Homo sapiens: one gene and its partners. The protein of the gene in region 3 interacts with the protein of the main gene of each other region in a pairwise test. Each region holds a gene or a part of one and is shown on either strand. Other genes may lie near its edges.

Region 1 (7,053 bases), on a different chromosome or scaffold from region 3:
TTTCAAATATAATAAGGAATTCAGACAGCAAGTCATTGACATGTAAATATAAAAATAGAAAAGCATTTGCATACTAAAACATACACCTGGAACTCTTTCCTTTTTCATACCAAATTGTATTTCACCTGTAACAGCTGATGAAAACACTCAATGCAGTTAACTAGAAAAACTTGGTTAAAAAAACAAAGACCCGAATCACGTGATAACACAGGAGGACGGCCATCCACAAGCCAAGCAGAGGGGCCTCAAAAGAAACCAAACCTGTACCTTGATATTGGATTTCTAGCCTCCAGAACTGTGAGAAATAATTTTCTGTTGTTTAAGCCAAAACAAAGAAGGACCTGACTAGATCAATTAACCAAGCAGCAAAGATGCCAAAGCACTGTGCTAGGCGCTGAGGAGAAAAGGATTACTACAGTAGACAATCCTTACCCTCAAGGGGCTTACGAATGTAGTCAGTGACACAAGACAAACCTGAAGTAAGATGGTGCACAGAGGTGTACTTTAAGTACATGAGACAAACTCCATAGGTGGTAGAGCAGTCAATCAATTAAAAACCTCTAGAATGGCTTCAAACCAAATATATGTGGGCTTTCAGATATCAAAGATTCATAGTACCCACTAGCAGAACGTTTGCTGTGTGAGATGTTTCAGCACTCCAGTTCTTTATTGCCCCCTTCCTTAAAAAAATAAATAAATAAAATAAAAACTGCTACAAGTCACATCACTTTTTGATAGAAATGTAAGTGAAAAATGCCTTTTGAATATATTCAAGAATGCTGCAACCCATTTCCCTTTCAGTATCCCTAGTTTTTAGCATTGTATGTAAGGCACTAAAAAAGAAAGTAAGCATCCAGATCTAAGAAGATCCAAACAAGTGCTAAAAGTTATTAGTAAATCAATGACAAAATTTAAACCAAGGAACAACCGTTTTCCTGTCTGTTCCATCCCCCAACCAAAGCTTGGAAATCCTCAAGAGTTAGGCAAGGATAAGTTCACAGTTAAATCTCTGAGATAGTCTGTGGAAGGGAAGAGAGGAAGGCAGGAACAGGCAGGTCCCTGAGCAGAATGACCAAGGCACCATTACCAGCTATACTCTTTTCCACCTTGAATCCCACACACCTTGAAGAAAGGACCACGCTGCAGCAGAAACTTCCTTGGGGACTAGCTGAGAAAACACTGGACTCTACTAGTTTTTTTAAAAAATGGATGAGATCACTTAGCAGCCTAGATTATCAAATCTGAAATATAAATAAGATGGCCAGTTAAAATGCATAAACAATGCACCCATCAATTTTAGCCTCAAAAACAATGACGAAAGGAGATATTTACCGGGCTAGTTCCAAAGAGTTCATTTTCCTGTGGTAATGGGCGCTTTTCTCGGGAGTAACAATTTTTGAATGCACTGAAAATATCAATTCATCTATCCAAAGTGGAATCATTAGTCCTTGGGAGAAAACCCAGTTCATTCTAGTTTTGATAGGAACAAACATATTTTATTATAAACTACTAATCTTTCTAAGGTTAGACCAAATAGACCAAAATGTTATATTTAAGAAGCCCTTAGGCTTTTACAAATATCCTAGCACTAGCAAAGGTAGGGTCATTTGTTAAAAAAGTATTATTTCCTACTACAGCAACTGACCAACAGATAACAGCAACTTAAGAGGCACTAAATGACACTAAAACATTACACTGAATGTGGGCCACTGCATAGCTAGTCTACTAACCTCATTTGTGGTACTCATGTGTGATGCTATATTTAATGCATTCTTATCAAAAGGCTACAGCTACATACTTCTCAACTGTAGCTTTATGGTTTAAAATAAACCACTCAAGCAATGATCTTAACTGGTTCAACTATGAATCCTATCTTTCTTCTGGAGATCAAGATCACAAAATAAGTGAAAAGACAGAAAGGACAGGAAAGTAGTTATGCAAAGTATATCCTAATGACAAGAGTATTATAAAGGAATTCAGTCTGGATCAGGTGCTAACACTTAATGCCACAGGGCCACTGAATCAAACACACGAGATGACCAAGGTCTTCGTAGGAATTAGTATTGCATACATTCATCTACTGATCCTGTGTTCAGTGGCTTGCTTAGGTTCTAATAGAAAAGTTTGGTAGACAGCACACTTATGTGTGTTGCTCATGAGAAGGCGCTCCACCAAAACTTGCCATGAGCCTAGACAGCCAATGCATTAGGCCTCTTTACCACATAAGTGAGGGTGGCTTCCTACAGTTGGGTTGAGAAGCTTGCTGCACCTTGGTCAACATGGAGACAACCATTAGAGATGGACTCATCCAATGACAACCAACAGAAGAAACCATGAGAGGTTGTGTTTTTCTTTGGATACTCACCAGACAACACCAAAGGCTCCATATCCAATAGGTCTATCCGGCTCAATATCCAGCTGCTGCTGTGGATGATGCGAGTGCTGATGATGGTGCGCCTTAACTGTAGCAGCTGCGGCAGCCTGTACCTGAGCTGGGGCTGCTGCAGCTGGTCCAGGAGCCTGCCCCGGTGCCGGTGATGGGAAATATGGCTGTTGTTGCCCAGGGTTTAACATGGCTGCAGCTGCAGCCGCTGCTGCGGCTGCCGCAGCTGCCGAAGAGGTGTGCTGCTGTACAGGGTGTACAGCGGCAGCCGACCCCGGATGAAGATGGTGTTGAGGGTGGTGGTGGTGGTGCAGGTGAGGAGGAGGGAGGTGTGGAAGGTGGTGGTGATGGTGGTGGTGGTGACCTGCTGCTGCTGCAGATGTACCGCCATTGTAAGCCGCCATCATTTTTGCGTTGGCTCTTGCGCCACAAAGAGACATTCAAAATAAATGCCCTTTGATTGGAAAGCAAACTGGGTCAAGCTGTCATTTGGCCATTTAAAAATGAAGAAAAACCACTCACTCCACCTCAAAAAACATAGAGCTTTATGTCTTCATCAGTCAATCCAAACAAGTTAGAGGATCTTGGTGTTTAATTTTGGGGTGAGCGTGTGTGGAAGGGTGTGGGTTGCCAAAAGGAAAAAAAAGGGAAAAAAGAAAAGAAAAAGGAAAAAAGGACCCCTTCCCCCCAGGATTCCTGCCACAAGTGGGTACTAAAACTCCATTCTTAATTTGGGGGAGGTTCCAACTTTGAATGTGGGAATAAAGGCCAAACCTCCCGACCCCCTGAACTCCACACACGAAAAGGATCAGGTAACACACCACCCTTGGAATCTTGAAAGAGGGTTGACTCATCTACCCCTTCCATTCCCACATCCTTTTCTAAACACCTACCACCTCCTCAAAAACAGGATTAAAAAAAATTCCCACCACCCTAAATGGAGAAGATGGGGGGAAATTTTCTGGGAAACCAGCTTCCAGCTTCCCCCCCCCCGAACTCTCAGGCCTTCCTACATCTCCCCCTACTCCTAGTCAGGTTGACCTGATTGGGGAGGGGGGGCGGGGGTTCCAAACTTTCCTGGGCAGAATAAGCCAGGGAAGGAGGCTGGAGTGAGGAGAGGAGGCGACAGCAGGACAGAGAGGAGAAAGAGAGCCGGGGCAAAAGTGAAGGGAAGGAGGTGCAGGGAGGAATGAAAGATGTGGGCAGCGCTCGGACGCCCAGACGGAGGGAACCGCCCCGGGAGAAGGTTAGGGTCCCGGGGCCAAAGAACAGGAGCCCCGGGAGGCGGGCGGGGTACGGTCGGAAGCGGGCTGACTCCTGCCCCCGCCGCCGGCTGCTTCTGCTGAGGAGGGTTGGGGGGGAGAGCGGGTGGGTCCCCCGCGCAACGGCCCCGCAGGGCTCAAGGCTGCTCCGTCTCCCCCCCTCCCCCCCACCCGGCTTCCGTCCCCGCGGCCGCTTTCTCCTCAGCCGCCGCGGCCGCCTTCTCCTCAGCCGCCGCCTCCTCAGCCGCCGGTTCCGCCGCGGCCGGACTCACCTCCCCTAGCAAAGCCGGATAGAGCGGAGCCAGCGTCGGACACGCGCAACCAGCCGCCGAGGCCCCGCCCCCGCCTTGCACGGACCGGCTGCCCTAGCCAATCCACGCCCACCTGTCCGCCACCGCCTCCAATCCTGGGCCAGGAGCTTCAGACAGGCGCACTGTTCGGCCAGTGGCAACAAGGTGTGGGTCTTCCGGGGAAATCCCGCCCCCGATCCGGGATGGGCAGATAGAAAGACCAATCAAAGGCAGAGTTTGGCTTGACCGACAAGGCTTAAAGCCAATTAAAAAGCAAAGATCTTTGTGACATTTTTCTTTCGCCTCTCTCCTCTTTTCTTCTTCTTCTTTTATTATTTATTTTTTTTTTTTTGGCAGGAGCAGGAAGCTGCGTGGTAATCCCGCCTGCAAAAGCTGGAAGAGAGGGGCGGAACGAAAGAACCAATCATGAGCCAGAGACAAAGAACAGAGTAACCAATCCTTGGGTTGAAAATGAAGTGGGATGGAACCTGGGCCAAATAGACACTTGAAAAAACAAATGGAAAAAAAAGGTTGATGTAAGTCCCACCCTTTAGATCTCCTATAGGACAGGATTGTGGAGAATTTGCTGTCATATCGAGACAACCTCTTCAAGGGGCGGGGCTTAGGGAAGGGGTGGGGTCTTAAAGTGGGCGGGACCTAGACGAAGAAGGCGGAGTCCAAATCATCACTGGTCCACTGATCCGAGATGTCCAATATCCCACTTAAGATGTAAAGTGTGGGGTAAAAAATAGGGGAAGAAAAAGGGAATGTTGAGCTTCAGAAACTCAAGGTCCAAGGTCACTCAACAAGAAGACAAAGGAAACTCAAAAGACTGACAGAAACTCAGTAGACTGACAGTTCGTAGTCTACGGCCGGTCCTCTCCATAGTTAATCCTGATCTTGGCAAAAAGAGGAGGAATCTCTGGCATTCAGAACTCCACTGTCGACAAATGATAAAGCTGTTGGTGCAAATTAAAACAAAAAAAGTAAACTTGACCACAAAAATAATAATTTTCCTCTATCTTTCTTTCTTAACAGGGTCACATTCTGTCACCCAGGCTAGACTGCAGTGGCACAGTCCTAGCTCACTGCAACCTCCAACTCCCGGCTCAAGCAATCTTCCCGCCTCAGCTTCCCGAGTAGCTGGGATTACAGATGTGCATCACCATGCCCGGCTGATTCTTTAATTTTTTAGAAACAGGGTCTTAATATGTTGCCCAGGTTGGTCTCAAATTCCTAGGCTCAAGAGATCCTCCCACCTCCCACCTTGGCCTCCCAAAGTGCTGAGATTACAGGCGTGAGCCACCGCCTCCAGCCTCTCCCATATTTTCTATCAAGTAAGTTTCTGTCATTGAAATCTTACTAAAATAGCATCTTTCCATCACTTCATTTATCTGAATTTACCCTTCCTTTAAAATGTGAAATAATAAGCTTACAGAACCTTATCCCTACTGAAACTGTATAGTTTACTCAAAAACTTGGAAGTCATCTTCGATCCCTCCTTTGCCTGTCCACATTGTCCCTTCCAATCTATCAGTCATCAAGTCTTCTTTTTTTTTTTTTTTTTTTTGAGACATGGTCTCTGTTGCCCAGGCTGGAGTGCAGTGGCATGATTACAGCCCACTGCAGCCTCCACCTCTTGGGCTCAGATGATCCTCCCACCTCAGCCTCCCAAGTAGGTGGGACTACAGGCACATGCCACCACACCTGGCTAATTTTTGTATTTTTTTGTAGAGATGGGGTTTTGCCATGTTGCCCAGGCTGAATCATCAAGTCTTAAACAATTTTAAATCCCCCTCACTTCTGCTACTTCCCAGTCACACAGCATTTACCCAAATTTACACCACTAACATCTTTAACCATTTCCCTGCCTGCAAGCTAGCTCTCCTTTGATCCATCCCCCTCTGGGGGCATAGTAAATTTTTAAAAATACAAATCTGAGACCAGGGGCAGTGGCTCACACCTGTAATCCCAGCACTTGGTGAGGCCAAGGTACGTGGATCCCTTGAGTTCAGAAGATCAGTCTGGGCAATGTGGCAAAACCCCGTGTCTACAAAAAATACAAAAATTAGTGGTACACATGTCTCTAGACCCAGCTACTGAAGAGGCTGAGGTGGGAGGATAGCTTGAGCCAGGGAGGTAGATGCTGTAGTGAGCTGAGATCCCACCAGTGCACTCCAGCCTGGGTGACAGTGAGATCCTGTCAAAAAAAAAAAAAGGCTGGCTGTACCCCTAAATAGCCTGGCATGATCTGGTTCCTGCCTACCTACCTCAAGGGTCTTATCTCTCCCTTCCACTCCACACTTCAGACATTCTGAACTTCCTGCAGCTCCTTGAATGCTTTCAAGCCTTCATGTATATCTTCAGCCCAAAACATTTCCCGCTCATCCTTCACTGCTCTAATTCATCCCTCAGGTCTTCGTGTAAATTTTACTTTTTTTCCTGGAAAGTTCTAACTCTGTTCTAGAGTATACGTTTCTGTTGTATATCTCCATGACACTGCCTCCCTCATATCGATATTTTAAGTGCTTGTTGAGTTTGACCGGGGACAGAGAGCTTGTCTGTCTCACTCAATGTTGTATGCCCAGTTCCTTAGGACAGTGCCTGAAAAAAAAGAAGACACTTGCTACAGATTTGCCTGAATTACTGAGTGCAGAAGTGGGTACAAACCCAAGCTCTGCCATTTACTTACTCTATAGTTTAGGCAACTTAACTAACCTTTCTCAATCTCAGTTGCCTCAACTGAAATAATACATGACTCATGAGGTCTATATGAGGGTTAAATGAGGTGATGTATTTAAACGTGCTTGGCAAATAGTGAAAATGCAATATAAATTCTCTTCAACACTCACCCTCATGTAATATTTGAGATGTTTCCAATTTTCCAATGCACAGCACTCTCCTCCAAAGTGTAGTTTCCTAAAAGCTTCTTAGATGTTCAGCAAATTATCTGGTTTCACCTCAGACCTACTGAATAAGAATTGGAGGAGGAGAGGAGGAATCTGTTTAACAAGCTCTCCAGGTCATTCTTACAAACGCTAGAGCTTAAGAAGCACAGGCCTAGAGTAAAGGAGCTTAGTCTTTGTAAACTTTCTTTTTCAGCGCTTAGTATAGTACT
Region 2 (7,023 bases), on a different chromosome or scaffold from region 3:
ATCTCCATTTTCTTCTGCATCTTGTTTTTCCTCAAGCTTTACTTTGCCATACCAAAATGTACATTCTCCACAAATCTACCATCTCAGGAGTCATGTTGCCCAGTTTAAACCCTTACAAGCAGGCATGTTACTCTTAAGTCTTCCTTATGGTGTGGAGCCCTCTACAGCTACTTCAATGCAACAGGTTTTTTATTCCATTTTTTTTTTTTTTTTTTTTTTTTTGAGATGGAGTCTCACTCTGTCACTCAGTCTGGAGTACAGTGGCATGATCTCAGCTCACTGCAATCTCTTCCTCCCAGGTTCAAGAGATTCTCCTGCCTCAGCCTCCCAAGGAGCTGGGATTACAGGTACCCACCACCACGCCCAGCTAATTTTTGTATTTTTAGTAGAGATGGGGTTTCACCATGTTGGCCAGGCTGGTCTTGAACTCCTGACCTCAGGTGATCTGCCTGCCTCTGCCTCCCAAAGTGCTGGGATTATAGGCGTGAGCCACCGCACCCAGCCTCTCTTTTTTTTTTTTTTAAAGGGGTTTTAAGGAATCATCTTACCAACATTTAAATTCCACTTCATCTCCTCCCAAATGAATGAATTGATCTGGAAACACCTCACTAATTTCTTTGAAAAATGTAGTAAGGAAGCTGTATGTTGTATTCAGAGTAGGGTTTATAGGTCCAAAAGAGTCCAACTTGTTTTGTCTACTGTAACATGGAGTCAGGAGGTCTTTCTGACCTAGAAGAAAATATTAAGATTCTTTTTAAAAGAAGTGTACTCATTATAAAGATCTGGTTTTCCACATGATTTTACTACGTCATTTTATTGAAGCTACAAGATTTTATACACAAAAGATGAACATGTTTACTAAGAGCTAGTAATTTCTTCCAGATAAGAAGGGTTTCCTGAATCCTGTCTCTTTGCCTCTTTGTTTCCCATTATATCTGAGATTTTATCTATGTCAAATGTTAGTAACTCCCAAATCTTCAGTTTGCCTCAACGCTTTTTCTTGAGCTTCAATTCATATTTCAAATTCCCTGCTGGATACAACTGAATATCCTAGCTGTACTTCAAATACAAGCTAACAAAAAACAACATCTGCAGTCCTTAAGCTCCCTTCTCTAGCTTCTCCTGATTTTCGTATTCTAATAAGGGTACCATCGTCATCCTAGAGTATATACCTCCTCTCTCCTGGAGTCCATCAGTTGCCAAATTCTATGGATATTTCCAGAATGTCTCTCAGTTCTGTCCATTATTTTACATTCCCACTATCACCCTCCTGGTCCAGAACTCCAATCTGTCACTTTCCCAAAGGTTTTCCCAAAGTGTGGTTCCCATCATGTTACTCCTCTGCTCAGAAATTTTCACTGGTTTCCAGTGTGTCCTGATGAAGTTCACATTCCTCACCAAAGGCCCGCTAATGTGCTTTTCCAGATTTACCTCTCACTATTCCCCATGTCTACTCTAATAATATTGAGCAATTATAAATGCTTGGTACTGTGCTATGTGCTTTACATTATTTAATTCTCAAAAAAATTACATGATAGCTACTACTAATTCTCATTTTAGAGATGGAGAAACTGAAGATGAGATATTGTAACTTGCCCAAGGTCACCTAGTTTATAATGGCAGAAGCAAGATTCAAACCCAAGCTGTCTGGCTCCAAAGCCAAAGTTCTTAATCACCACCCTATAATGCCTCCTACTCTGCTACACTCTACTCCAGCTACATACTTGTCAAGCATATCTTACACTTTTTGCACACATTTCCTTATGCCATTTCCTCTACCAGAAACATGAATATATTCTGTGATCACTCAAAAGCATTTTAAGTGTTACCTCATCTATGAAACCATTTCTTGAATTCACTTATCATGTTCTACTTTTTGTAATCACTTTTTGTTTTCTTTCATTCCCTTTTTTATACTTTAGGCAGTACCTAATCACAATGACTTGCTCACAATAGACACAGAGTAGCTATTGAATTGTATCTGTCAATAGTATTACTGATAGGCCAATCACAATTAAGAACAAAATGAGCAAACACTAGGTCATAAAATAAGAAATGCAATACCTCAAATATTCACTTTTGCAACTTATAAAATACAACTCCTGGCCAGGCGCAGTGGCTCACGCCTATAATCCCAACACTTTGGGAGGCCGAGGCGGGCCGATCATGAGGAGGGGAGATCAAGACCATCCTGGGTAACACGGTGAAACCCCGTCTCTACTAAAAATACAAAAAATTAGCGTGGTGGCGGGCGCCTGTAGTCCCAGCTACTCAGTAGGCTGAGGCAGGAGAATCGCTTGAACCTGGGAGGCAGAGGTTGTAGTGAGCCAAAATCATGCCACTGCACTCCAGCCTGGGCAACGGAGTGAGACTCCGTCTCAAAAAACAAAACAAAACAAAAACAAAAATTAGCTGGGCATGGTGGCGCATGCCTGTAGTCTCAGCTACTCAGGAAGCTGAGGCAGGAGAATCGCTTGATCCTGGGAGGTGGAGGTTGCAGTGAGCCGAGATTGTACTACTGCACTCCAGCCTGGGTGACAGAACAAGACTCCATCTCAAAAAATAAAAAATAAGATAAAATGAAATAAAATACAACTCCTTACCTTTTCCCCAAGATAGTGTATGCCCAGGGGTATCAAATTCTGGCAGGACTCGAATTCCTCGTAATCTGGCATATTCAATCACCATACGGACATCATTTGGTGTATAAACATGAGACAAAGAATAGCTTCCCTGTAAAAGCCATATTTATTCAAGTTAAAATGTACAACGTAGATTTGATCCTGGAAATTGTTAACAATTGTGCTTGCATTTGATATTTGACAGCTAATTTTTTCACTATGACAATGTATTAGTTTCATGTGATATTAGATGACTCATTTAAAAATAATATAGTGCCATAGTTTCAGGAGTAGAAAATTTCAGAAAGAAAATTTCTACTAAGTCGTACATACTCAAAGGATGATAGCCATTTTGGGGCTTTTGTCAAATCATTTGTTTACCATATTTTAGCAATAAATTCTCAGTATACTTTGGGCTAACCGCAGATTTACTGGTAGAAATATCTGTCTCCATCAGTGCCTCCTGTTTCAAGAGTTTCTACTATCATGCTGTTTCAACTTCCATGTAAGAATACAACAAAACAAATGTCTCCAAAGTGAAACTTCCGAAAACACTGCTCTTGTCAATTTTAGAGTCAAAATGCACACCTTATTACAAAGCATAGCTGTTGTCCTTCAAAGGACTATCAGCTTGAATTACTATAAGCTTGAAAAATTCCCATATAGACTCCAGAATAAGTGACTTGTTTTTTTTTAATGATTACCTCAGTCCCTTTATAGGTCACTTGAAAAATTAGAACTCAATATTGTTTGTAACTAAAGTTGTGAGCTGTTCCTTAGCACATTTCTCAAACTATGGCCTATAAGTGCTCAGTTGCGGAAAAGCAGTCTTGTCTCCCAGCACTGCAAATCAAATTTCTATCAAGACTAGATTCAACTACCAGTTTATAGTAAATACAGGGACATATTAATTGACACTGTGGGGTGCAATCAGCAAAACCCAGACTGTGGGAAACTGTAGGACACATGACTCAGTTTCTTCAACAACAATTACAGGAGAAAAAGGTGGGAAGAGCAGACCTGTAGATCAAAAAAGAATTACTAGACATATTAACTCACCACAATTATGGAGCTTATTTGTATCCCACTGCAAATGTTTTAAAATAATTTTTTAAATAAGAGAAAAAGACAGTTGGAGAAATGTGAATTTTTTTTTAAAATTTAAAGCATTTCTTTTTTTTATTATTATCATACTTTAAGTTTTAGGGTACATGTGCACAATGTGCAGGTTAGTTACGTATGTATACATGTGCCATGCTGGTGCGCTGCACCCACTAACTCGTCATCTAGCATTAGGTATATCTCCCAATGCTATCCCTCCCCCCTCCCCCACCCCACAACAGTCCCCAGTGTGTGATGTTCCCCTTCCTGTGTCCATGTGTTCTCATTGTTCAATTCCCACCTATGAGTGAGAATATGCGGTGTTTGGCTTTTTGTTCTTGTGATAGTTTACTGAGAATGATGATTTCCAATTTCATCCATGTCCCTACAAAGGACATGAACTCATCATTTTTTATGGCTGCATAGTATTCCATGGTGTATATGTGCCACATTTTCTTAATCCAGTCTATCATTGTTGGACATTTGGGTTGGTTCCAAGTCTTTGCTATTGTGAATAGTGCCACAATAAACATACGTGTGCATGTGTCTTTACAGCAGCATGATTTATAGTCCTTTGGGTATATACCCAGTAATGGGATGGCTGGGTCAAATGGTATTTCTAGTTCTAGATCCCTGAGGAATCGCCACACTGACTTCCACAATGGTTGAACTAGTTTACAGTCCCAACAGTGTAAAAGTGTTCCTATTTCTCCACATCCTCTCCAGCACCTGTTGTTTCCTGACTTTTTAATGATTGCCATTCTAAATGGTGTGAGATGGTATCTCATTGTGGTTTTGATTTGCATTTCTCTGACGGCCAGTGATGATGAGCATTTTTTCATGTGTTTTTTGTCTGCATAAATGTCTTCTTTTGAGAAGTGTCTGTTCATGTCCTTCACCCACTTTTTGATGGGGTTGTTTGTTTTTTTCTTGTAAATTTGTTTGTGTTCATTGTAGATTCTGGATATTTCCTTTGTCAGATGAGTAGGTTGCGAAAATTTTCTCCCATATTGTGGGTTGCCTGTTCACTCTGATGGTAGTTTCTTTTCCTGTGCAGAAGCTCTTTAGTTTAATTAGATCCCATTTGTCAATTTTGGCTTTTGTTGCCATTGCTTTTGGTGTTTTAGACATGAAGTCCTTGCCCATGCCTATGTCCTGAATGGTAATGCCTAGGTTTTCTTCTAGGGTTTTTATGGTTTTAGGTCTAACGTTTAAGTCTTTAATCCATCTTGAATTGATTTTTGTATAAGGTGTAAGGAAGGGATCCAGTTTCAGCTTTCTACATATGGCTAGCCAGTTTTCCCAGCACCATTTATTAAATAGGGAATCCTTTCCCCATTGCTTGTTTTTCTCAGGTTTGTCAAACATCAGATAGTTGTAGATATGCAGCGTTATTTCTGAGGGCTCTGTTCTGTTCCATTGATCTATATCTCTGTTTTGGTACCAGTACCATGCTGTTTTGGTTACTGTAGCCTTGTAGTATAGTTTGAAGTCAGGTAGCGTGATGCCTCCAGCTTTGTTCTTTTGGCTTAGGATTGACTTGGTAATGTGGGCTCTTTTTTGGTTCCATATGAACTTTCAAGTAGTTTTTTCCAATTCTGTGAAGAAAGTCATTGGTAGCTTGATGGGGATGGCATTGAATCTATAAATTACCTTGGGCAGTATGGCCATTTTCATGATATTGATTCTTCCTACCCATGAGCATGGAATTTTCTTCCATTTGTTTGTATCCTCTTTTATTTCATTGAGCAGTGGTTTGTAGTTCTCCTTGAAGAGGTCCTTCACATCCCTTGTAAGTTGGATTCCTAGGTATTTTATTCTCTTTGAAGCAATTGTGAATGGGAGTTCACTCATGATTTGGCTGTTTGTCTGTTATTGGTGTATAAGAATGCTTGTGATTTTTGCACATTGATTTTGTATCCTGAGACTTTGCTGAATTTGCTTATCAGCTTAAGGAGATTTTGGGCTGAGACAATGGGGTTTTCTAGATATACAATCATGTCATCTGCAAACAGGGACAATTTGACTTCCTCTTTTCCTAATTGAATACCTTTTATTTCCTTCTCCTGCCTAATTGCCCTGGCCAGAACTTCCAACACTATGTTGAACAGGAGTGGTGAGAGGGGGCATCCCTGTCTTGTGCCAGGTTTCAAAGGGAATGCTTCTAGTTTTTGCCCATTCAGTATGATATTGGCTGGGGGTTTGTCATAGATAGCTCTTATTATTTTGAGATATGTCCCATCAATACCTAATTTATTGAGAGTTTTTAGCATGAAGGGTTGTTGAATTTTGTCAAAGGCCTTTTCTGCATCCATTGAGATAATCATGTGGTTTTTGTCTTTGGTTCTGTTTATATGCTGGATTACATTTATTGATTTACGTATATTGAACCAGGCTTGCGTCCCAGGGATGAAGCCCACTTGATCATGGTGGATAAGCTTTTTGATGTGCTGCTGGATTTGGTTTGCCAGTATTTTATTGAGGATTTTTGCATCAATGTTCATCATGGATATTGGTCTAAAATTCTCTTTTTTGGTTGTGTCTCTGCCCGGCTTTGGTATCAGGATGATGCTGGCCTCATAAAATGAGTTAGGGAGGATTCCCTCTTTTTCTATTGATTGGAATAGTTTCAGAAGGAATGGTACCAGTTCCTCCTTGTACCTCTGGTAGAATTCGGCTGTGAATCCATCTGGTCCTGGACTCTTTGGTTGATAAGCTATTGATTATTGCCACAATTTCAGCTCCTGTTATTGGTCTATTCAGAGATTCAACTTCTTCCTGGTTTAGTCTTGGGAGAGTATATGTGTGGAGGAATTTATCCATTTCTTCTAGATTTTCTAGTTTATTTGCATAGAGGTGTTTGTAGTATTCTCTGATGGTAGTTTGTATTTCTGTGGGATTGGTGGTGATATCCCCTTTATCATTTTTTATTGCGTCTATTTGATTCTTCTCTCTTTTTTTATTAGTCTTGCTAGCGTTCTATCAATTTTGTTGATCCTTTCAAAAAACCAGCTTCTGGATTCATTAATTTTTTGAAGGGTTTTTTGTGTGTCTATTTCCTTCAGTTCTGCTTTGATTTTAGTTATTTCTTGCCTTCTGCTAGCTTTTGAATGTGTTTGCTCTTGCTTTTCTAGTTCTTTTAATTGTGATGTTAGGGTGTCAATTTTGGATCTTTCCTGCTTTCTCTTGTGGGCATTTAGTGCTATAAATTTCCCTCTACACACTGCTTTGAATGTGTCCCAGAGATTCTGGTATGTTGTGTCTTTGTTCTTGTTGGTTTCAAAGAATATCTTTATTTCTG
Region 3 (7,023 bases):
TTCTTAAGACTTTTTTTTTCCCGATCTGAGCTACTTAACTAAAATTTAAAAATCATTTTGTGCTTTCCATTAATCATCACATTAGCATCTGTGTCAAACCAGTATATATATATTTTTTTTTTGGCAAATTCAAGCAGGAGGGCAAAAATAAGAGTGCCAACAAGGAGTCTACAAAGTTTTAAGTATTGATTCTACTCACATCCACAGTCATGTTCTGATATTCTGATGGCATAGGAGTCTGTGCTACTTCATCATCCAGCTGTCTCCAATACCTGGTCATATCTAAAGCAGAGTGCATACATAATGGACATCTGTAGCCTCTGAAAGAGATAGAAAGGTTATTTTCCAAATATTAAACAAGAATATATTAATTCAGGTATACAAGAAGATGCAGGCTAACTGCCACATGAACCATTCAAAACAGGCATTTTCCTCCATTTCAAGATAATCTCTTAGGAACCTGGGAACTTTCACACTATAAAACTTTTAAATTAATTCCTGTATACTTATTTAAAACTAAGTCTTTTTCCTCAGTACTCTAAAATGGAGAGGAATTAGTCCATATTCTTTGTAGAATACACTTCATATATTTTTATAAACTAATTAAGCTACTCCTTATCTAAACAACCTTAATTTCTTAATACACTCATGTAAAGAGACTGTATTTGTTTAAAATTATTCAGATATTATTTCCTTTCTAAAAATTTGAAAAAAAGAATGCTCTCTCTAGCTCTTCACATTTTTGCTCATCAATATGTAGGACCAAAATACAGTCTTCTCTTTTCAATTATTTTCATCTAATTTTAATATCTTTTCCATTAATAAAGTCTTAGCTTTAATGATCACTTCACCTACTTTCTTTTAGTTTACTATACTTGGCCAATATAACAACCTAACAAATTTTTGGCAATATTTTTCAGCATTTTTACAACACTATAACTGCATCTGGCAAAAACTGCACTTCCTGGTATATATGGCCAGAAAAAAAAGAGGTAACTACCTCAAATTGTGGGAGGAGACAAGATTTAAGAGAAACATATGGCAAAAGTGTAGTTCTATATCCAAGACACTTTGTCCTGTTTTAACAATATTCATCTACCCTACCCATTTCAATATAAATATTGCCATGCCCAATATAGTATAAGTAACAATGTTTGTCCACCTCCCCACACCACACACACAAAAAAGTCAAACATCTTACAATTATTTTTAAAATCCCAAACACTCACTCTTTCAACATTTCTTCATAACACGTTCTGAAAGAAAATATAAGATTATTTTAGTAAAACAAAAACTGTCTCCACTATTTTCAAACATCATTGAGAAAAAGATGTTACTTTACCTATGTAAAAGATGTCCACATGGCAAGACATGAGCAACAACACGGGATGTGTGAATGTCCTGTAAATGAAATAAATGTTAGTGCTTGTATGAAGACAATATAAACATCCAAGTATTTTAAATTCAAGAGCTGAGACTTCCAAAGTAAAAAATATTTTAAGCCTACCTCCAAACATATTGGACAATTCTGTCGGGACACATTTTCAATACACTGTTTAAAAGAGAAATTCACATTAACAAAAGCTTAACTAGATTAAAATGTCAGGTATAAAAATATTAATAATAAAAATTAACAAAACCAACTTACTAAAAATAATAGCTAACATTAATATATGCTTTTTATATGTAAGAAGAGTTTTTTAATAGTTATTTAAATCTCACACTATTTCAGGCTTGGCATATTATCTGATACAATGAAAATGTCAATAAACATTATTGAGATTACCTTCATTTCACAAATAAGGAAAGTGACTTAGGAATTCAAGACACTTACCCAAGATCCAAAGATAATAAGATTTGGAACCTTTGCATATTATGTATGTTTTACTCCAAAGCCAGTGACCTAAATTAGTAAGCTCAACTTACTAATAATATTGGTAATAATAGTTCATATTATTGAAATTTACTACATGCCATGTTCAGCACAGTACCTGTATAAGATCAATTAAATCTCACAATCCTAGATGAAATAGGCTATGATTGTTATACCATTTTACAGTTAAAGCAGTGGAGGCCTAGAGAAGCTAAGGAACTTCCAAAGTCACACATTAATAAGAGGCAGAATTAAACTGGAGCTCCAGCAGGCTAACTTCAGAGCCAGAGTTCTTAATTTGACAAGATGTAATGTCTGATTAAATCCAAGGAGGTAAGGGAAAGCACTGTGCCATGGAAGACTCCCAGGTTTTTAACGGAAGCACTTAATAGATGGCAGGACCACTTAGTAATATAGACAATAAAAGATAACTGAAAAACAACATAACAAAAAAAACCATAACAAAAAAATAGATGTAAGTTTTTGAAAGATGACAGTATAGTGGGGAGAAAAACCCTCAAAATAATAAGCTTAATAGTAAGTTTAAAAATCTAGACTGTAATCCTAGCTCTGCTATTTACCAGCCCTTGAGATTTTGGACTAGCCACCACTTTAGTCTTAACGTTTCTTATTTATAAAATAAAATTAATACATATTTCATTTGATTCTAAAGTGCACCTCACACATACATTTTAACATCCCCACAATTACAACATATCTGATCATCAGTGGCATCTCTGAGTTGATGGAATGTAAATGCTGAGGTGAGGATGCAATGAATTAGTGTGTGCACACACACTACACATGCTTTGGAAACCAGAACATCATAGAAATGTAATCTATAAGATACTATTGACTCCTGGCTATCTCCATTAGCATAGCTTGCCATCACCCCAAACTCAAGTTTAAAAACCAAACTCAATCTTTTATCTTCAAAAAATTTACAATCTACTAATCAAGTACCTTAAGCTGGGGCTGAAAATCTTCAGAGTCATCTTTACTCTGCCTCATTCTTTTTCCTTAATACCATTACCACATCATATATGTTCATTATTCATCTCAATTTTCCTCACCACTTTACTATTTAGGCCAAGTTCTAGCTAATATTATATTTCTGCAATAACTTCTTATTCTTATATTCTATCGAACCTACTATACTGCTAAGTAAATGATTTCAAACAGTCTCTTTCCAATTAATGTCTATCTGTCTCTCTCTCTCTCAACAGCTACAATGTTGCTACTTATACTGTTCTGCCTTATCTGGAATTTCCTATACTTGAACAAGTACGATTTACACTTCACTTTACACCAATCCTCCATTCTCTTAATTAAATTCTTACAGTAGATAGAATCAGTACTATAATGTAATACTTTATTAGATTTTTTTTTAAATAATGAAAAAGGGCCTGGGATTGTGACATAATTCCTACATCCAGATTTAAAATATGTATGTCTTAATTATAAAAAGAAATAGTAAAATATTTTCTGAATTTTCTTAGAATGTTGTGCTAATTAGGTTACACCATTCAGTATTTCTCCTGTTTTAAAGTTATTCTTAAAAGCAGTACCAATGGTAAGAATCCATAAACTAACTTGGAAGTTGCCAACATTATGCTAGTAAGTGATATAAGCATTCTTACACTACAGAGAAGAAAAGGAACTGTAGGTCAGATATTCTGAGGTACATATTTTAAAATATCTACTTGTTAATACTGCTTTTCAAAAAAGCAATATAGTTGCACTTGGAAATACATGAAAATTAGCATGCTTCCAAAACATATTAGAAGTTAAGCTTATTGCAAAAACACTGTAATATTTTTAAAATTATACAAACTAAATTATATACCTTGTGTCTTCCTTGAAGATTCATAGCTAGGCATAAGTTACATTTCAAACAATGGAAAAAATCTTCCTTTGGACCAATCCTAGCAAAACACATGAAAGCCAAAAGATTAGATTATTTTTTACTACAGTCATGATTTGTTCATTATGTAAAACACAAGTTTAGTCTCTGTAAAAAAAATTTCCAGCCACAATGGAGAATATGGGATAAATCCCTATCTCCCCAACATCCCTCTCCAAATGTAAGCACTATACACAGAGTGGTATCTACCCTTCTAGGGCTTTTTTTTCTTTTTCTATAAAATTGCAAAAAGAGAGAAACACAGACACACACACACATTTCGGGTTTGATTTCTTACATTAATGGATTCTTTCTACAGATGCCATTCTGCAACTTTTTTTCACTTGATATATTCTGAGGATTTTATGTCTGTCTACACAGAACCACTTCATTCTTCTTAATAGCTACATTAATGGCATGGATGTATACTAATTTTTTTAAATATTCCCTCAGAAAGATCATAATTTATGATCTTTAGTTGCTACAATGATACAGTAAACATCCTTGTCCAGACATCACTTAGTTCACATGTTGATTATTTTTTACGAGATTCCTAGAAGTGAAACTACTGAGTCAGAAGATGTTGCAACATTAATTGTGATACTGCCAAACTGACCTCCAAATAGACAGTACCAATTTATACTTCCACCAACACTGCATGAGAGTAACCATGTTCCCCACACTTTGGGTAACATGGTTACTTGTATTATAGACAAACAAAAGATGTCATTTTAATTTGCATTTCACAAATAATGAGACAGGGACTGTACATTAATGAACTACTTGGATTTCTCTGTGGATTGTCTGTTCATATGTTCTGTCCATTTTTCTACTGAAGTATTTGTTTTTAACCAATTTACTGGTAAAAAATATATCATGAATATTAGTTATTTATATAATGAATATCAATGTTTTCATTCGCATGTATTATATTTATATATCACCAATATCAATTTTTTATTTGCATATTTTATATTTACTTTTCTGGTCTGTGATTTCTCTTAACTTTGTCATATAGCCATTTTTAATTACTATGTGGTAAAAAGTCATCAATATTTTCCTGTATAGCTTATGCTTTCTGCCTCTTGTTTAGGAAACTTTTGTAACCTATAGATCATAAACAGACTCTCCTATGTATACTTCTAGTACTTACAGCTTTTCATTTTTATATTTTTCTTTAATCCATTTGAAATTTGCTATATATGGCAAAGGTTAGATTGCTACTTGTCCCTAAATTTCTATTCTCCACTTCTTCTACAATGATAGGGTATTTAGCTAGGCACTGAGCTATTCAGAACTGTCCTGAATAAAGACTATTTTCCAACATACCTGGACGTTGGGAACAGAAGAGATACATGAAAATTCTGCATTGTACCCTCAAGAGGAAAAATATGCCTTCCCTTCACCTAACTAGCCTTTCTACAGACCAGAATATGAGGCATTTTAGACTACAGAGACAAGAAAATATCTTATGGGTGACAAGGCAAAAAACAAGAAGAGCCTGAGTTCCTGTTTAGCTACACAACTCAGATTTATTTCCATGAGAAATGAACTTCTGCCTTTCTTGAACCACCATTACTTTGGGTTTCTGTCACAAGATGCTAAATCCATACTCTAATGAATACAGTTTGAAGAGTCAATTTTTGGTTTCCGAATGGATAATCAATTATCTTAATACTACCCTTTCCTGATTTGAAATGTCACTTTTGCCATAAATTCATATGTATAAATATTTGTCTGTGTATATACACACACACATATTTATCTATTCGTCTATTCCTGCACAAACAGCAAACTATTTGAATTACTATAGCTTTATCATGTTTTGATATGTGGAACGGCAATCCACTCTTCGTTGTCCTTCCTTCAAAATTTACTCAGCTATTGTGAATTTTCTCTTACAAATGAACTTTAGAATAGGCTGTCAAACTCCATAAGTAAAATTCTGCAGGGACGTTTCCACTACTGCCAAAGATAGAATAACGGAGATCAGACCTACCCTCCCATCTGAAAAAATAATGACAAAAGACAGAATATATGAAACAGCAGTTTCACTGAACATCAGGCAACAACACAGAGTGATCTGTGAGAGATAAGAAACAAAGTAAGTGAGCCCTAAAATTGCTCATTTATTGCCTAGAGAGTTTTGAGGCCAGGACAGGTTAGAAGAACTAAGGGTGAGCTAGGAAGACATCATGATTGAAATGATGAGCTGAGACAGTCTAGAGAAACCAAGACAGATTCATAGGACAGAGCATCAGATAGGAGAGAGCTGCACAGAGAAACCTCTGAAATATTTAGTAGGATACCCATCAGCACATGGATGTAAGAAAACTACCCAAAGCCAGGGAAACAACCTTCTAAAGAATGAGAACAGTACTACTCACACATGGCTAGGAACAGTGCCTGATCCCATCAAACAGACTGGGGAAACTCATAATTCGCAGGCTCCGGGTGGAGTATTCAGAAGGATATTGCCTCAACAGTGGAGAATAGCCCTGGGATAAGCCCTTCTGTAGATCTACCTAACAAATTAGAAAAGTAAATCCCAGAAAGTCTAAACTGTTTCCAAGTAACTTAACTGCATCCCAAAATAAAGCTCAAGAAGATTTATAGGAATACAAAAATACCCAGCACTAAACATGATAAAAAGAAAAATCACATCTGATATCCAACCCACAATAACCAGGCAACAAAGAGGCAGAAAAACACAACCTAAAATGAGAAGAATAATCAATCAATCAACCCAGAACAGACACAGATGTTAGAATTAATACAGGGCATTAAAAGTTATTATAACTGTATACCATTACATTAAAAAAGTATTAAATATGAAAAATATGTTTAAAGACCCAGATCAAACTTCTAGACATAAAAACTACAATGTCTGAGATTTAAAAATACACTGATGAAACTAATGGCAAGTTTGATATTGCTAACAAAAAGGTTAGTCAACTTGAAGGCACAGTAACAGAAACTATCCGAAATGAAATAGGAAGAAAAGGGAATTTTTTTAAAACGACAGAGCATGAGTAAGCTGTGAGACAACTTCAAGCAACCTAACATACATGTGTTCAGTTGAGCCTAACGCTGCCTCCTACATATTTTAAGATCGTCCTAAAAGGCTTTGCTGTACATAGTTAACTGTAACCTAACTGGATGTGTTTACCTACAGTAACCTACTCTAGTACCAATCAATCACCAAGTTTCATCCAATCACAGGCAGTCCTCGGTTCAAACTGTGTTT
Region 4 (7,893 bases), on a different chromosome or scaffold from region 3:
GCATGCAGGGCACTACGACATTTATACAGTCACGTGATTCCTACATCAGCTGCCAAATATGGCTGCCGACCTGTCCTCAGGGTCCCCCCAAACCAGCCTTAGTCTTTGCAGGCAACAATGGATCCAGACACAGACCGGCATGGCAGGGCTTCACTGGCACCCGAGTGGAGCCTGTGGGAGGTGAGCTCATCCCAGGTCCCCAGAGCGCACGGCTGATACAAACACCTGACATCACCTTTCACACGGGTGTGTGCACAGGGAGCACTGCTGGGTCCCCGCTGTGCCCCGGCAACCATGCGAGCATGTGCACATACACACACACTTCCAGGGCCACCAGAGTGTATGATGTGTACAGGGCAGTAGGAGGTCTTAGGGGGGCCTGGGGAGCCAGGGGAGAGAGCCTCCAGTTTATATTTATCCCGGTTCCAGTTTCTCTTTAGGCTCCCAGCGCCAGTGACAATTCAAGAAGCGAGGCGTGGAGAGGGCGAGGCAGAAGGCTCTCCCCCTCCCACACCTGGGCAGGCAGTCTGGGGTGGGGAGTTGGACAGAGCTCCCCCAGAGGAGGCTAATCCCAGGTCCCAACCCACACTGCCCGTTCTTCCAACTCGAGTTTCTTAGAAAGCTGTGCCACACACGTGAGAATAAAGCCAGCACACTATGGGGGCAACTCCTCAGCAGCCTGTCCCTGACTTCCTCCTCACCCCTCCAGGCACTCACCCCCAGAAGACACTGTCTTACGCGGCACAAGGTTCCACCACACCTCAGCCCCAATGCCCAGGCCCCACAGCCTTGCTGCCAGCAGCCAGACAGCCCAGTGTGGGGCCATGGCGCACGCCCCGGCTCTGAGCTTCAGGCCAGCTGTCCTGCTGAGGGAAAAGACATGGTCAGAAATCACAGCCAGAGAAAGCAAACCAGAGGGGCCCGCAGCAGGAGAGGCCACAGGACTCCTCATCAGGCCTTCCAGGAGCCCCGGTGCCCTCCTTCCCCTTCTCTTTGGAGGTGGACCTAAGTCCCCACACTTGGCCTCTGCCTAAAAGACCACAGGTCTCCCTGGGAAGCGGGGAGGAGTTGAGTTGGCTGAAGGCTAAACAGGCTCCGGGAAGCCCTCCCTGGCCTCCAGACCCACCACTACCTCTGCGCAACAGGAAATCATTTGAGAAATAAAAAGGGGACCCCCGCCCAACATACACACTCAGGCCTAAGAGGTTTGAGTTTCTTGAAAGAACCTCAGGCAGCAGGCCTTGCAGCCACTGGGGCTCCGGACCCTGCCAACACCTAATTCTGGGAGGAAGACTCCTTAGGGCGACGAGGGCATGCGGTGGGGTAGGCGGTCGGGAAAGCCCCAAAGGGGAAACCTGGTGCGGCCGGCTGCGAGCGGAGGTCCCGGTCCCGGCCTGTCCCCTTCCCCAGCGCAGACAATAGCCCTGCAGAACCCCAAACCCCGTTCCACATCAGCAGGGCAGGAGTGTGAGAAGGGCCGGGAGCGAAGGGGCCCAGCTTCCCGAGGCCCCTTTGTTGCCCAAGAGGGAGGCAGGAAGTGGGTGGGATGGGCGTGGAAATGACCAGGGCCTCATCCTGTTCCTCGCACTGCCTCCTCCGAAACACCAGCCCTCTGGCGGAGGGGCGGTGGGGGGACCGAGCTCGGGTCGAGTCGGGGACTCCGGCGGCGCGCGCAGGCGACGGGGGGAGGTAGGGGCGGGGACGCGAGGGGGTTCCTCCCGGGCCGCTGGCAACGCGCCGCGCACGGCCGGCACCCGCTGCGCTCCCGCGACTCTGACGAACCTTCCCAACTCGGGGACTGCGCCCCAGGGACCCTGGCCTGGGCGGGCCAGCGGGATTGGCTTCCCCTGCTCCAGCCTTCCCGTGCCAGGGGCGGAGACGCAGAAGCTGGGGACCTGCTCACCCCCAAACAAAGGGTCCCCGCCAAGACCCCGTCCCGGGTCCCCCCGGGTTCTCCCCTCCCCCAGCTCCAGGGATTTGAACGCAAACAAAGCGGCGGCGCGGGGAGCGTGGCGAGCCCGGCCTGCGGACGCCCCCTGTCGGCCCAGAGCCCCGGCGCGGGAGAGCGGGGGCTGCGCCCCAGACCAGCCCCCCAAAACGCCCGCGGCCTCATCTCGGCTCCTTACCCGAGGATCGGGCCGCACCCCGTGGCGTGCTCCGAGGATCCGCCCGGCAGCGGTGCTCCCACCCGCAGCTCCCCCCAGGGCGAGGAAACGGGCAGCCGGGAGGAGGGGTTGGGGGGAGGGGTGCGGGATCCAGGCGGGGCACCCCACACCCTCGCCCACCCCGAGCGGCCAGCCGTGGACCGCGGCCCTCCCTGCAGGGCGAGCGCTCCAGCCGGGGACGGCGCGGCCCGGCTCGGCCCGGGGGCCTGGCTTTCCGGGACAACCCGCCTCCCCAGCGGAATGGGCGGGCGGGCGGGGGGCCGCGGCAGGGAAATCCGATCCCACAACATCGGCCTCCCTCCAAGCCCGCCCCAAACTTTCCATCGGGGGTGGGAGCGCCGAGGGCAGTCCAGGAGCCTGGCGAGGATCCCGGCCGCGGACCGGACCGCGCGAGGAACCCTCGCTGGCGCGCCCCTCCGGCCCCGGGGCTGCGGGGCTGCAGGTGCTGTGCGCCCCACTCCCGAGACCCTGCGAAGCAGCCGCGGGGGTCGCAGGAAGGATCCCCGCGTACAGCCGTCTCCGCCGCCGCGGCTCCCCGCGCCCCAGCCCCTGTCCCTCCCGCGTCCGGCAGCCCCTGCCCAAGCAAAGGGACAAAGCGGCGGCTCCGGGGCCCCGCGGCTCCAGCCTCACGCAAGCCCGGCCTCGCTCACCTATTGCGCGCAGCTCCAGTCCCCGGGCGCCGCCCTCGCGTTCGGCTCTGACCGCCGTCCACCCCTGCCCCCGCGTCGCCGCCTGCCCGCGCTCGCCCGCCAGCCCTCCGCGGCCTCTCTGCCACCGCCCCTCCGTCCCCGCCCGGCTCCGCGCCCCTAGGCTCGGGCTCCCCGCGCCACCACGGCGGGCGCCGGCTCTTTCTCCAGCGCGGCCGCGGCTCTCCGCCCCCTTCCCCTTGACGTCAGGCTGGGGGGGTCGAGCGGAGGCCGGGGGCGGGCCGCGAAGGCTCGCTCAGGAGGGGGCTGCGACCCGCAGCGACCTGTGGACCCGCCCGCTCTCCGCCCGGGGGCTCGGACCTCCGCCTCTCTGGGTGCCCGGACCTCAACCCCTCCGGGTGTCCAGCAGCCCCGGGGCTCGGAGTCGCGGGCTGCGCCACAGCGCCTGGAGGGAGGTGGGGCGGGGGAGGGACTCCGGGTATGGCCACGGGGGAATCACACTCACCCGATCTTTCTGAAGTGTCCCCCGAAGACTCCGGGCGGGCTGGGCTGGGGAGAGGGACTCCCGACCGTGCAGTTGCAGGAACGACCGCGGGCGAGCCACGTCGAGGCGAGTATCCAGGGGAGGCACGCTGGGGGAACCGAGGCGTCTTTTGGGGCGGACCAGAGGGGTCTGCCGTTTGGCCCCCAATTCTGCCTCTTTCTAGGCCCCGAGGACCACTGGTCCCTGCCCTCAAGTCTGGAAAGGGCTTCACCAGCCAGGAAGACCCTTCAATCAACAGAAAGGGCCTGCTCCTGCTTCTCACGCTTTGGGCAAAGCGCCTATCCCCAGAAAATGACTCCTCGTGCCACTGGAAGGCTGATTAACAAGTGGCATGAGCCCTACTGTTCAGATGAAAGGGGCTGTGGGGAGCCACGCTGCAGAACCACCGCCACCTTCAGAACCACCAGCCTCCGCCCACAGCCACTCCTAGAAGCAACTTGTAGCTCTGGCCTCATGGGCGGTGCAGCGTCTTTCCTGCCAGCTGGTCCTCTGAGCTGGGCAGGTGGTTAGAAGAGGTGGTCCTCATGGAGGACACCCCACGGGCACCTGGAGACAGATGCTACCTCCTGGCTAGGGGCAAAAGGCAGAGGTGAAGGGGCTTGACGTCCTGAGGTTTGGAGGTAACTTTAAGCCAGGGTGCAGTCCTGGAGGGGAGGAACACTTCAGGCTGCGTCAGCAGATCTGGATTATAAATCAGTCCGACAGCAGCTTTTGTTCTGGGTTAAAACTTGGCATCTGAAAAGTGGAGACCAGAAAAGTGGTGGAGATAATTGAGAAAAGCAGCCCAGTTTGGTTTCAGTAACAATCGGGTCTTTGCTGGTACACATAATGGCCCCTTCTCCCTTGCTGGCCAAAGCCACGTTTCCCAGCTCTTTTCCACTAGGAAAAAGAAAAAAAGCTGTGGCCTTGGAGATGCTGGAGATAATGACCATGGGGTGGGCAGGGAAGGCCTCCTGCTTCAGCTGACAAGGTGGGAGAAGGTGTGTCACCCTCGTGTTTAGTTTATTCCCCGTATCTATTCAAGCGGAGGGTAAACTGAGATGCAAGTGCCCTCACTTGTGTTCTGTGCTTTAGATTTTTGCAGCTTGTCTTGATGTACATTTTCTTACTTCACCCTTATGACCACCCTTTAAAAAGTAAGTAATTTGGGAGGCTGAGATGGGAGGATCACTTGACCCCAGGAGTTCAAGACCAGCCAGGGCAACATACTGAGACCCTGTCTCTACAAAAGAAATTATTATTATTATTTTTTTTTTGAGACAGAGTCTCACTCTGTCACCCAGGCGGGAGTGCAATAGCGCGATCTCGGCTCACTGCAACCTCCACCTCCTGGGTTCAAGTGATTCTCCTGCTTCAGCCTCCCAAGTAGCTGGAATTACAGGTGCCTGCCACCAGACCTGGCTAATTTTTGTATTTTTAGTAGAGACGGGGTTTCACCATGTTGACCAGGCATGCGCCACCATGCCCAGCTAATTTTTGTATTTTTAGTAGAGATGGGACTTCGCCGTTTTGGTCAGGCTGGGCTCGAACTCCTGACCTCAGGTGGTCCACCTGCTTAGGCCTCCCAAAGTGCTGGGATTAGCCACTACGCCCAGCCCCAAATTAAAAAAAAAAAAAAACTAGCGGGGCGTGGCGGGGAGGGGTGGCTCACGCCTGTAATCCCAGCACTTTGGGAGGCTGAGGCAGGCGGATCACGAGATCAGGAGATCCAGATCATCCTGGCTAACATGGTGAAACCCTGTCTTTACTAAAAATACAGAAAAATTAGCCAGGCGTGGTGGCGGGCGCCTGTAGTCCCAGCTACTCGGGAGGCTGAGACAGGAGAATGGCGTGAACCCAGGAGGCAGAGCTTGTAGTGAGCCAAGATCACTCCACTGCACTCAAGCCTGGGCAACAGAAGGAGACTCTGTCTCAAAAACAAACAAACAAACAAACAAACAAACCAAACTAGCGGGGGCGTGGTGGCATGCATCTGTAAGTCCCAGCTACTCAGGAGGCTGGAGTGGGAGGGTCGCTTGAGCCCAGGAGGTTGAGGCTGCAGTGAGCTGTGATTGTGCCATTGCACTCCAGCCTGTAGAGCGAGACCCTGCCTCGACAAAATTAAAAAAATAAGTATTGTTGCTCCCCTTTTGGAGATGAGTCAAAAAGATTAAACAACTAGCCCCAAGTCATGGAGATAATTAAAAAAGATTAAACAACTAGCCCCAAGTCATGGAGATAATTAAAAAAGATTAAACAACTAGCCCCAAGTCATGGAGATAAAAAGGTCAGAATTTCTTTTTTAGAAACGGGGTCTTACTCTGTTGCCCAGTCTGGAGTGCAATGGCACAGTCATGGCTCAATGTAACCTCAGACTCCTGGGCTCAAGCGGTCCTCCCACGTGAGCCTCCCAAGACTACAGGTGCACACCATCATACACGGGACAGGGTCTCGCTATATTGCTCAGACTGGAAAGTTCAGATTTTTAAATCAGGTCTTGGGACTCCCGATTCTGTTTTTCCACAGAGTCACCATCTATCCTGACAATGCTCCATTTCATGCTGTTTTTCCTCACCTTCAATACTGCTCCCCCATCCCCCCACCTCTAGGTGTGAAGGTTACCAGGAGAGACCTGAGCTCGCTGGCTCTGACTCCAAGGTGGCCTCAGTGGAAAGTTTCAAAAGGCAACCGGTTTGGTTTCACTGGCAGGGCAGCGGCAGGCGTTTGGGTTCTGGAGGCCCAGGAATGTAGAAGCCTCCAGCTAACAGACTCCACGCGCCTATCCTCCCAAACGCTCTCGGAGATAAGCTCCCAGCTCCCTCCCCTTTTCCACCTTCATGCACTTCCTGCTGTATTCTGTCCATTCCAGCACTGGCCCTTTCTGTGGGTGGGTGGGCAGAGGATACAATTTCCTGCATGACTACTTGCTCATGATTCATACTTCTAAATGAAAGTACAACTGATATAAAAAAAAGATTTCTGGGTCTTCAATTAATAAAAAAATTACTAATACAGGTACCGGGGGTGGGGGGAGGTGCACGTACCTGACTAGTCTCCCTAGGGCCTAGCATATCTATGGAAGGTATCCACACTTTGGGACTCAGGCCTTGACAACTGCTTGTGGTCGTGTCAAGGAAAGACACAGAAATTGTGCTAAATGACTCTCAAGGGTCTTCAAAGATCACCCAGCAGCTCAGGCCAGCCCCTAGAGATGACCTAAAGAGTCTTTCCTGAAAAGCAAGTCCCCCTTCCCATCTCTTGATGTTGGTTGGGGGCCACACTGCCCTTCATTTGAGCTACTCACCTACTAGCTCTCCTGAGGCAGCCAGAGGGAGGCCCTGGGTGGACACTGGGTTCTCTGGTGAACGCTGCCTGGTGGATTTCCAAGGCAGCCAGGACTGCCGTCATCCCACAGATGGGGAAGTGAGAAAGCTTGGGTCAGCGCGCCTGGGGACCGAGGTGACTAGGGACATAGGAAAAGGACTCTCCCTCCCTACTTCCTCCAAAGGAGAGTTATCAAAGCTGCCCACCTGGGATGTCTTTCCCTTCCCAGCCCCTCCCTGTCACCAGTACCAAAAGGAAGCAGGAAAACATCCGTCATCACAGCCCCGGATGCGGATTTTCCAGTGGCTCCTATCAGGATATCCCCCAGCCTTTTCCCAAGGGCTTAGGGATCTGGAAAAGTCAAAGATCTGGAGGGCAAGTGGTCACATTGCCAGCACCACTGTGAAAATCTGGACCTTGGGGAGGCTGAGTCTCTAACCGATCCCAGACTAGTTTTAGAAGATCTGGTCAGCTCCCAGCCAGTCCCAGAGAGGGCCCATTACACACCCCAGGGGACAGCATACGCCCTTGGGCGACCTCACAGTGCACACCTCTGCTCGGGTTACAGCCAGGTCTCTGGAGGGACTGAGTCGTCACCGACACCTCCTCTCCCCTTGGTATCTATTTCTCTCTTGGGGATGGGTATGTTTGGGGAGCAGTAGAGGAGGGGACAGTGGACAAGAGCCAGGACTGGGGAGGAAGGCTCCAGTTATCGACGCTGATGGACAGCTCGGCTCCTTCTCAGAGCCAGGTAGGGCCACCTTCGAGAACTGGAAACTCCCCCTGTTTAGCTTCTCAGGCCTCCCTACTTCCTCTTTGCCCTTGGCAGTAAGAACAAAGAAGGGAAATTTCAAAGGTGATTTCCAGGTTTCCAGAGAAAAGTGAATAGCTACAGATGAACTGTCAGTGCATGCAGTGTTGGAGCAGGGCAGCCCGAGGGCGGGTGAAGGAGGCTGGCTCACCATAGTCCCTGCTCGTTCACTGGAGGATCTGAGGTTGACCTGATGCTGCCGGGGCTTCGGGGGTGCCCGGGCCATGGGGGCATGTGACGCAGCCAGGAACAGAAACTTGAACTGTCACGGAGGTCGCTTGGCATCTAAGTCACCCTGGCCGAGGGTTTCTTCCCCCTCTCATTTGGCAAAGGCTGCTAGGCAGAAAGGCGTCCTGTGTGGTATCCAGCACTGTGCTGTGCGTGTGCCCGTGCCCCTGAATAATAGATGCCCCCAGCTCCTAG

The links.
Region 1: the proteins of RCHY1 (region 3) and NLK interact in binary tests that used the Homo sapiens proteins (3 or more experiments, as listed by UniProt).
Region 2: the proteins of RCHY1 (region 3) and HEXB interact in binary tests that used the Homo sapiens proteins (3 or more experiments, as listed by UniProt).
Region 4: the proteins of RCHY1 (region 3) and SEMA4C interact in binary tests that used the Homo sapiens proteins (3 or more experiments, as listed by UniProt).

The regions. Positions count from the first base shown.
Region 1 is NC_000017.11:28,038,644-28,045,696, reverse strand, and holds the start of NLK (serine/threonine-protein kinase NLK), read right to left. Parts: upstream 3,021-7,053; 5' UTR 2,824-3,020; coding exon 2,366-2,823; intron 2,360-2,365; exon of another isoform or gene 1-2,359. UniProt on the Homo sapiens protein: Serine/threonine-protein kinase that regulates a number of transcription factors with key roles in cell fate determination. Positive effector of the non-canonical Wnt signaling pathway, acting downstream of WNT5A, MAP3K7/TAK1 and HIPK2.
Region 2 is NC_000005.10:74,709,216-74,716,238, reverse strand, and holds part of HEXB (beta-hexosaminidase subunit beta isoform 1 preproprotein), read right to left. Parts: intron 2,734-7,023; coding exon 2,604-2,733; intron 730-2,603; coding exon 549-729; intron 1-548. UniProt on the Homo sapiens protein: Hydrolyzes the non-reducing end N-acetyl-D-hexosamine and/or sulfated N-acetyl-D-hexosamine of glycoconjugates, such as the oligosaccharide moieties from proteins and neutral glycolipids, or from certain mucopolysaccharides.
Region 3 is NC_000004.12:75,490,382-75,497,404, forward strand, and holds part of RCHY1 (RING finger and CHY zinc finger domain-containing protein 1), read right to left. Parts: intron 3,799-7,023; coding exon 3,720-3,798; intron 1,553-3,719; coding exon 1,508-1,552; intron 1,402-1,507; coding exon 1,343-1,401; intron 1,257-1,342; coding exon 1,230-1,256; exon of another isoform or gene 1,202-1,229; intron 321-1,201; coding exon 200-320; intron 1-199. UniProt on the Homo sapiens protein: E3 ubiquitin-protein ligase that mediates ubiquitination of target proteins, including p53/TP53, TP73, HDAC1 and CDKN1B. Mediates ubiquitination and degradation of p53/TP53; preferentially acts on tetrameric p53/TP53.
Region 4 is NC_000002.12:96,867,061-96,874,953, forward strand, and holds the start of SEMA4C (semaphorin-4C precursor), read right to left. Parts: upstream 3,021-7,893; 5' UTR 2,976-3,020; coding exon of another isoform or gene 1,968-2,975; intron 1,690-1,967; coding exon of another isoform or gene 1,525-1,689; exon of another isoform or gene 1,359-1,524; coding exon of another isoform or gene 1,314-1,358; exon of another isoform or gene 953-1,313; coding exon of another isoform or gene 827-952; coding exon 718-826; intron 1-717. Other genes in the region: collagen alpha-1(I) chain-like, read left to right, coding at 1,314-1,358, 1,525-1,689, 1,968-2,975.